Linked DNA regions of Homo sapiens: regions 1 and 3 are each linked to region 2. Evidence: fine-mapped expression QTL. A gene starts in region 2. Each other region holds a variant in brackets. All regions are shown on one strand. Distances are from middle to middle.

Evidence for each region.
Region 1: its variant is fine-mapped to the expression of RASA1 in tibial nerve (GTEx, PIP 0.98).
Region 3: its variant is fine-mapped to the expression of RASA1 in testis (GTEx, PIP above 0.99). The same link has a PIP of 0.9 or more in tibial nerve.

What each region holds. Positions count from the first base shown.
Region 1 is chr5:87,476,105-87,478,872 of GRCh38, reverse strand. The region is part of intron 1 of LOC105379066 (a long non-coding RNA gene); the gene reads right to left. Among named protein-coding and RNA genes, the nearest start is that of CCNH, 65 kb to the right of the region's middle. The variant C/T (reference allele first, on the strand shown) is at 1,509.
Region 2 is chr5:87,266,697-87,269,464 of GRCh38, reverse strand. RASA1 (RAS p21 protein activator 1) reads right to left here and starts at 1,582. Exons shown (of 25, transcript NM_002890.3): 1 at 475-1,582. The coding sequence starts at 1,013. RefSeq lists enhancers at 811-860, 618-1,505, 1,559-1,853 and silencers at 1,041-1,220, 1,561-1,810.
Region 3 is chr5:87,288,319-87,291,086 of GRCh38, reverse strand. The region is part of intron 1 of RASA1 (RAS p21 protein activator 1); the gene reads right to left. Among named protein-coding and RNA genes, the nearest start is that of RASA1, 22 kb to the right of the region's middle. The variant G/C (reference allele first, on the strand shown) is at 1,221.

The DNA of each region.
Region 1 (2,768 bases), 210 kb before region 2:
GGAAATAAGTTCAACAACCAAGATGAAGTAGGTTTCTTAAAAGACACATTTTTCCAAAGTTTACTCAAGAAGAAATAGATAACCCTAATAGTTGTTTTTTGATTTTTTAATTTTTTTTTGGTTTGTATAACAATTTTTTTTTTCTTTTTTTCAGATTTTTTTTTTATTATTTTACTTTAAGTTCTGGAATACATGTTCAGAACATGCAGGTTTGTTACATAGGTATACGTGTGCCATCGTGTTTTGCTTCACCCATCAACCCATCATCTAGGTTTTAAGCCCCGCATGCATTAGGTATTTTTCCTAATGCTATCCCTCTCCTTTCCTCCCAACCCCCAACAGACCCCAGTGTGTGATTTTCCCCTCCCTATGTCCACGTGTTCTCACTGTTAAACTTCCACTTATGAGTGAGAACATATGGTATTTGGTTTTTTGTTCCTGTGTTAATTTACTAAGAATGCTTAATCCATGCCCCTGCAAAGGACATAAACTCACTCTTTTTTTATGGCTGCATAGTATTCCATGGTGTACATGTGCCACATTTTCTTTATCCAGTCTATCATTGATGGGCATTTGGGTTGGTTCCAAGTCTTTGCTATTGTGAATAGTGCCACAATAAACATATGTGTGCATGTGTCTTTATAGTAAAATGATTTATAATCCTTTCAGTATATACCCAGTAATGGGATCGCTGGGTCAAATGGTATTTCTGGTTCTAGATCCTTGAGGACTCGCCATCTGGTCTTCCACGATAGTTGAACTAATTTACACTTCCACCAACAGTGTAAAAGCATTCCTATTTGTCCACATCCTCTCCAGCATCTGTTGTTTCCAGACTTTTTAATGATTGCCATTCTAACTGGTGTGAGGTGGTATCTCATTGTGGTTTTGATTTGCATTTCTCTAATGTCCAGTGGTGATGAGCTTTTTTTCATGTTTGTTGGCCACATAAATGTCTTCTTTTGAGAAGTGTCTCTTCATATCCTTTGCCCACTTTTTGATGGGGTTGTTTGATTTTTCTTGTAACTTTGTTTAAGTTCCTTGCAGATTCTGGATATTAGCCCTTTGTCGATAGATAGATGGCAAAAATTGTCTCCCATTCTGTAGGTTGCCTGTTCACTCTGATGATAGTTTCTTTCACTTTGCAGAAGCTCTTTAGTTTAATTCGATCCCATTTGTCTATTTTAGCTCTTGTTGCCATTGCTTTTGGTGTTCTAGTCATGAAGTCCTTGCCCATGCCTATGTCCTGAATGGTATTGCCTAGGTTTTCTTCTAGGGTTTTTATGGTTTTAGGTCTTAAGTTTAAGTCTTTAATTCATCTTGAGTTAATTTTTGTATAAGGTGTAAGGAAGGGGTCCAGTTTCTGTTTTCTGCATATGATTAGCCAGTTTTCCCATCACCATTTATTAAATAGGGAATCCTTTCCCCATTGCTTGTTTGTGTCAGGTTTGTGGAAGATCAAATGGTTATAGATGTGTGGTGTTATTTCTGAGGCCTGTGTTCTGTTC[C/T]ACTGGTCTATATATCTGTTTTGGTACAAGTACCATGCTGTATTTGTTACTGTAGACTTCTAGTGTAGTTTGAAGTCAGGTAGCGTGATGCCTCCAGCTTTGTTCTATTTGCTAGGATTGTCTTGGCTATACAGGTTCCTTTTTGGTACCATATAAAATTTTAAGTAGTATTTTCTAATTCTGTGAAGGAAGTCAATGGTAGCTTGAGGGAAATAGCATTGAATCTATAAATTACTTTGGGCAGGTTGACCATTTTCATGATACTGATTCTTCCTATCCATGAGCATGAAATGTTTTTCCATTTGTTTGTGTCCTCTCTTATTTCCTTGAGCAGTGGTTTTAGTTCTCCTGGAAAAGGTCCTTCACATCCCTTGTAAGTTGTAATCCTAGGTATTTTATTCTCTTTGTAGCAATTGTGAATGTGAGTTCACTCATGATTTGGTTCTCTGCTTGTCTATTATTGGTGTATAGGAATGCCTGTAATTTTTGCACATTGATTTTTTATCCTGAGACTTTGCTGAAGTTGCTTATCAGCTTAAGGAGTTTTTGAGCTAAGACGATGGAGTTTTCTAAATATAGAATCATGTCATCTGCAAACAGAGGCAATTTGACTTCTTCTCTTCCTATTTGAAAACCTTTTATTTCTTTCTCTTTCCTGATTGCCCTGGCCAGAACTTCCAATACTATGTTTAATAGGACTGGTAAGAGAGGGCATCCCTGTCATGTGCCAGTTTTCAAAGGGAATGCTTCCAGCTTCTGTCCATTCAGTATTATATAGCCTATGGGTTTGTCATAAATAGCTCTTATTATTCTGAGATATGTCCCATCAATACCTAGTTTATTGAAAGTTTTTAGCATGAAGGGCTGTTGAATTTTATTGAAGACATTTTCTGCATCTATTGAGATAACCATGTGGTTTTGTCATTGGTTCTGTTTATGTGATGGATTACATATATTGATTCGTGTATGTTGAACCAGCCTTGCATCCCAGGGGTGAAGCCAAATTGATCGTGGTGGATAAGCTTTTTGATGTGCGGCTGGATTCATTTTGCCAGTATTTTACTGAGGATTTTTGCATTGGTGTTCATCAGGGATATTGGCCTGAAATTTTCTTTTTTTTTTTTTTGTTGTGCCTCTGCCAGGTTTTGGTATCAGGATGATGCTGGCCTCACAAAATGTGTCAGGGAGGATTCCCTCTTTTTCTATTTTTTGAATAGTTTCAGAAGGAATGGTACCAGCTCCTCTTTTTACCTCTGGTAG
Region 2 (2,768 bases):
ACTGAAATAAAAACATTCTAACCAATACATTTTTCAAATTATTACTATAGTACTCGTTTAAACACCTGTATTCAAAGCTTCTCACTAATCATCTAGCTTTATCAAGTAACACACACAAGTTAATATACACTATGACTGCCTTGGTAGCCGCAGTTTGACTAAATTCTGGGACACCACCTCAACTTGGAAGGGACAGAACTATATCCGGTTCTCATTAGATACACATTTTCTCATGCTTTCCATCTTAAAGACTTTACACTTTCCCAGAGGAGCAATAAATGTAGGAAGACGCCAGGTAGTATGCCTGTAAGGAAGATAAGTGATCAGATTAAATTCCTACCCAAGAAACCTGAAACTTCAAAAACTTTTCCTAACAAACCACAGATGAAAAGGACAAAGTATGATTTACCCCTTCATTTCCACTTCTTTTCTGGAGCCAGCTTCCCAAATTCCTGAACAGCAGTCTTAACTTACTGGTTAGTTGGAGGAGCGGTCAACGGTATGGCCACCTCTTCCTCCTCGTATTCTGGTCCATCCAGAGAGTCACCTTCGTCCACTGTCCCGAGGCCCGCCCCCAAAGGGGGCAGGTAAGGGGGAGGGGGCAGAGGGGGAAAACCGCCGCCTGGCCCGAGAGTCTCAGCAAGCAACGAAGTGGGCAGTTTGGTGAGAGCCATGTCTCCACTAGGTCCAGCAACAGCAGCACCGGCCACGCCAGCAGCAGCACCAGCTACGCCAGCAGCAGTACCTCCCCCTGTCAGTCCAGCTCCCCCCAGTGCCCCTGCCACAGACCCGGCTCCTAGGAACTCTGACCCCAAAGCGGCTCCGCCACCCAGAGTTCCAGCCACTCCGGTCTCCACCAGCCCAGGATAGGGGGCGGCTGCCACAGGCAGGGCCGCGGGTATCTTCACCCGACACACTGCGGGATAGGCACTGGAGCCCGCTGCCGCGCCGCCTCCTCCAGCTCCGGCTGTTACCGGGCCGCCCTCCTCACTGCCGGCCTCGGCCGCCATCATGTTGAAGCCCGCTCTACTCTGCCCTACCCTGCCCGCCCGGGAGCCCCAGGGGCCACCAGGCCCGGGCTCCGAGCAGCCCCACCCAGACGCGTCTCCCCTTCAGCTCCCCAGGCTGAGGAAACAACAACAAAAGGAGAGAGCCCGCCGCCGCGCCCCCTCCTAGGGCCACAGCCCAGGCTCCCCAGCTGCCTGGGTTACGGGAAGCCAAGTGGGCAAAAAACCCAACGCCTGCACAAACGCCACCCAAACCTCACCGCACACACCCACACTCACGCACACAAACACATGTACAGAAGCGAAAACTTCCTCGCTGCACTAAAGAGGAAAGGAAGCACAGGGAAAGAGGCTGAGGCTGCTACCGCTCCTTCAGCCGCCACCACCGCTTCTTCACCACCCCAGTTCCGGCCACCCACACCGCAGCCACCGCCGGTGCCGCTGCTGAGGCTGGGGCCACTGCAGCCGCTTCATCCTCCACCAGGCAGATGAGAGGGGTGGGGGGGCAAGAGAAAGGGGGGCGGGGTAACGAGGAAATCGACTGAACTGCTCACTACCTGGAGCTCTCAGTGAGTGAAACGGGAGAGAGAGAAAGGAAGGCGGGGCAGGGGAGGAGGGACGGAGGGAAGGAAGGGCGGAGAAGGGAGAGGGCAGCTTGTGCGCAGGCGCGTTCCCGGAGCGGGGGCGGGGGGCCGGGCCGGGAGGAAAAGGAAGAGTCCAGAGGGAAGGAAGCGGCGGGGACGCGCGGTGCGTGGTCGCGCTTGCTGTCCTCCTCCGGTTCCAAGCGTGTGGCGGCGCGGCCGCATCTCCTGTTGGCGTGGCCGGCGGCGCGCGCCTGTCTCCCGGGGCTTTGTTTGATGGGCGGGAGAAGAGGGAAGGGTACCTGAGCACGCGGGTGCTTGGCGCTGTTAAAGCCGGAGAGACCAGAGGGGGACCAGGAGGCGGTGGAGAGGAAGGAGGGGGAAAGGGAAAGGAAAATGCCCAGAAACTAGTTCCGTACTTCCTGACCAGTGGAAAAAACAGCCTTAACCAGCAGCGCAGAAACCGGGCAGGGGTCAGGTAGCTTTGAAGATCGGGGCAGTACTATTAATGTTTTCTTTTTCGTTGCATGCTATAAATCACTATGACTATCTCACACACACACAGTTAAAATAGATTCTGAAACTCCAAAACGAAATAAAGGGCACCATATGAGAAGGGTGAAGAATTTGAGTAGAAATAGTGGTTATGAAGTAAGATTTCTACCAGTATTTGCATACGTTTTTCTTTATCAACTGTCTCATATACTTACCTATGCCATTATAAGTCTGTTGGATACTGATGAAGAGGAGGAGGTGCCACAGAAAACACTAATCAATGCACTTTTGTCCTGGTTTGTGTGCAAAAGACTGCAGGACGTGATCCACAATGCAAGCACCTTCAACAAGTCAAATGTCAAGAATGTCCCAGAATGCTAGTTATAATTATATATCGTTTCAAAAGTAGCAATAAACTGAAAACTCATTTTTAATACAATTAAGGAGAAGGGTGTTATTTTGTCTTTTACACTAAAATGTATACAAACTATGCATTCATGTAGAGGGAGCTTCCCATGGTTTGAAATTAACAATATTGTTAAATTCTCCCAGGAGTGATCCCACATTAAATACCATTGGATATTGATCTTTGAGATCAATATTTTCTGTGCTAAGGATGATCAAACTAACACTCAGGATGGCAAGTGGCTGTGATAGAAACCCAGGAAAAAGAGAAAAGACCACT
Region 3 (2,768 bases), 22 kb before region 2:
GAACTCTCACTCACTACAGGTGGGAATGCAAAATGGTGCAGCCACTATGGAAGACAGTTTGGCAGTTTCTTCCAAAACATACTTTTACTATACTATCCAGCAATCAGGCTTCTTGTTATTTATCCCAATAAATTGAAAACTTCTGGCCACAAAAAAACCTGCATACAAATGTTTATAAGCACCTTTATTCATAATTGCCAAAATCCACAAACCACCACTAGCTGACTGGATAAATTATGGTGCATTCAGACAAAAAAAGAAATTAGCTATCAAACCATGGAAAGAAAGAATGAATCCTAAATGCATGTTATTTAGTGAAAGAAGCCAATGTGAAAAGGCTACATACTGTACAATTCCATCTATACAACATCCTGGAGAAGGTAAAACTATGGAGACAGTAAAAAGATTAGTGACTGACAGGGGCTAAGGGGGAAGGAAGAATGAACAGACAAAATAAACAGGATTTTTAGGCAATGAAACTATTTTGTATGACACCACAATGTGGGATACATGTCATTAAACATTTGTGAAAACCTATAGAATGTACAATGCCAAGAATAAACCCTAATGTAAACTATGAACACTGGGTGACAATAATATGCTAATGTAAGTTCACCACTGGAAACAAATGTGCCAGTGTGCTGGATGTCAACAGTGGGAAAAAGAGGGGGTGGAATATGGGAACTCTACTTTCCCCTCAATTTTGCCATAAAGCTAAAACTGCTCTAAAAAATAAAGTTTATTAATTTTTAAAAAGTGAACTAGGGGAAATAAAATTTTTGTGCCTATCTAGAAGTATTCACCATTTTACTCAAACTGCATTCCTGTCCCTTATACACCACCTTTAACCATTAAATCCAATGCCTTTTTTGATTTTGCATCCTCCTTGTCCTCATTGCCTTGAAATAAATCACTGTAAAAATGGAATACAAATGGGTAAAGATGCAAGGCAGAAGGGTTTCACCCAGAACAAGCTATATAACTTGCTAACTGTCAAGAAACATCATTAAATAGCAAAAGTCAAGATGACTGCTCCAGGATATATAACTTAAACTCAAGTGAGTCAACTATTAAGAGTTGATGGGATATAAGGTTGTTGATCCATTTAACAAAGCTCGAAAGTGACTAATATAGAAACCACAAGGACAATTTATCTATTAACAACAACAACAAAATTAAGCCAGGCACGGTGGCTCATGCCTGTGATCCCAGCACTTTGG[G/C]AGGCCAAGGAGGGAGGATCACTCAAGTCCAAGAGTTCAAGACGAGCCTGGGAAATTGGTGAGAACCTGTCTATACAAAAAATAAAGCATTAGCTGGGCATGGTGGCATGCATCTGTAGTCTTAGTTAATAGGAAGGCTGAGGTGGGAAGATCGCTTGAACCTGGGAGGTTGAGGCTGCAGTGAACAGTGATTACACCACTGCACTCCAACCTGAGAAACAAAGCAAGACCTTGTCTGAAAAAATAATAATAATAAAATAAAATACATGCATGCCTGCATGTATCTCTGCCCAGCCTAATCTCCCCTACAAGCCTACTAAGTGGGAAGCCAAACTGTAATCCTAAGATTCCCTAATGAAGATTGCCAACTAATAAATTTCAACGAAATTACAAATAGAGGGAAAAACCACCATTTTACAGTATCATTACAAGAAAATAAATGATTCAGGTAAAAATAATCAACGGCTATTAAAACCAATGGGTACTTATTATTTATTAATTATAAAGGGAAAGGTATTTTTCATAATAGCAAAATCTGGTGCAACCCACCTTAACCAAGTCCAAACTTAGGTACATCATCAATAGGATAATTGACGTCATGTGCCCTTATGTACTGAGAACTCATGACCTATGGCATATCTCTGCCAGTAATGGTTAATCTAAGTGTAACTATGAGAAAACAATCAAATACAAATTGAGACACATTCTGCAGAACTATCCTAAACTCTTCAAAAATGTTAATGTTACAAAAGAAATAAAAAGCAAAAAGGACTGTTCTAGATTAAAGGAGACAAAAAAGACATAACAATTAAATGCAGTTCATTAAAACAGACAAATATAAACGACACTATAGGAATAACTGACGATATATGAATAATACATTAATGTTAAATTCATTATATTTGGTTTTGTAGGCTATTGTCCTTATTCTTGGGAAATACATGATAAAGTATTTCAATGGAAAAGAACAAGATCTCTGCAACTTACTTTTAAACAGTTCAGCAAAAGTAATATATACATGTGTGTATAAAGAGAAAGGGACAAACTAAAATGTGACAAAATATAAAGTTGCTCAGTATTCTTGCAACTTTTCTGCAAATTTCAAATTTTCCAACACAAATACTTGGGGTAAAGTTGAACATGCAATCTGGACCCAAAAAAAAGCCTATATCCAATAAAAACATTTACATAATAACAAGAATAACTCCACCAGAAACAGATTCCATCCTTGGGCTAAAAAAAGCCCACTCACTTGTACTTAGATGACACCTGACAAGCTAACCCTTAATAAGGCTCCATTTTACATGAGTCCATTATGACCACATCGTTTGCTACAATCCCTATTATTTAAATAAGCCAGTATTACCAAGCAGGTACTGTCAGGTCTTTCTAACCAGAAAACTTGTGTAATTCATTGCACACTGATTTAATTGATTTCGTGTGGTTTAATTCTCTGAGAAAACAATTCTTTCCAAGTTGGTTTGATGACATCGTTGCTGCCACTGTTTGAGAAGGAATCTTTATTTTTTGTCATATTACATCAACTTC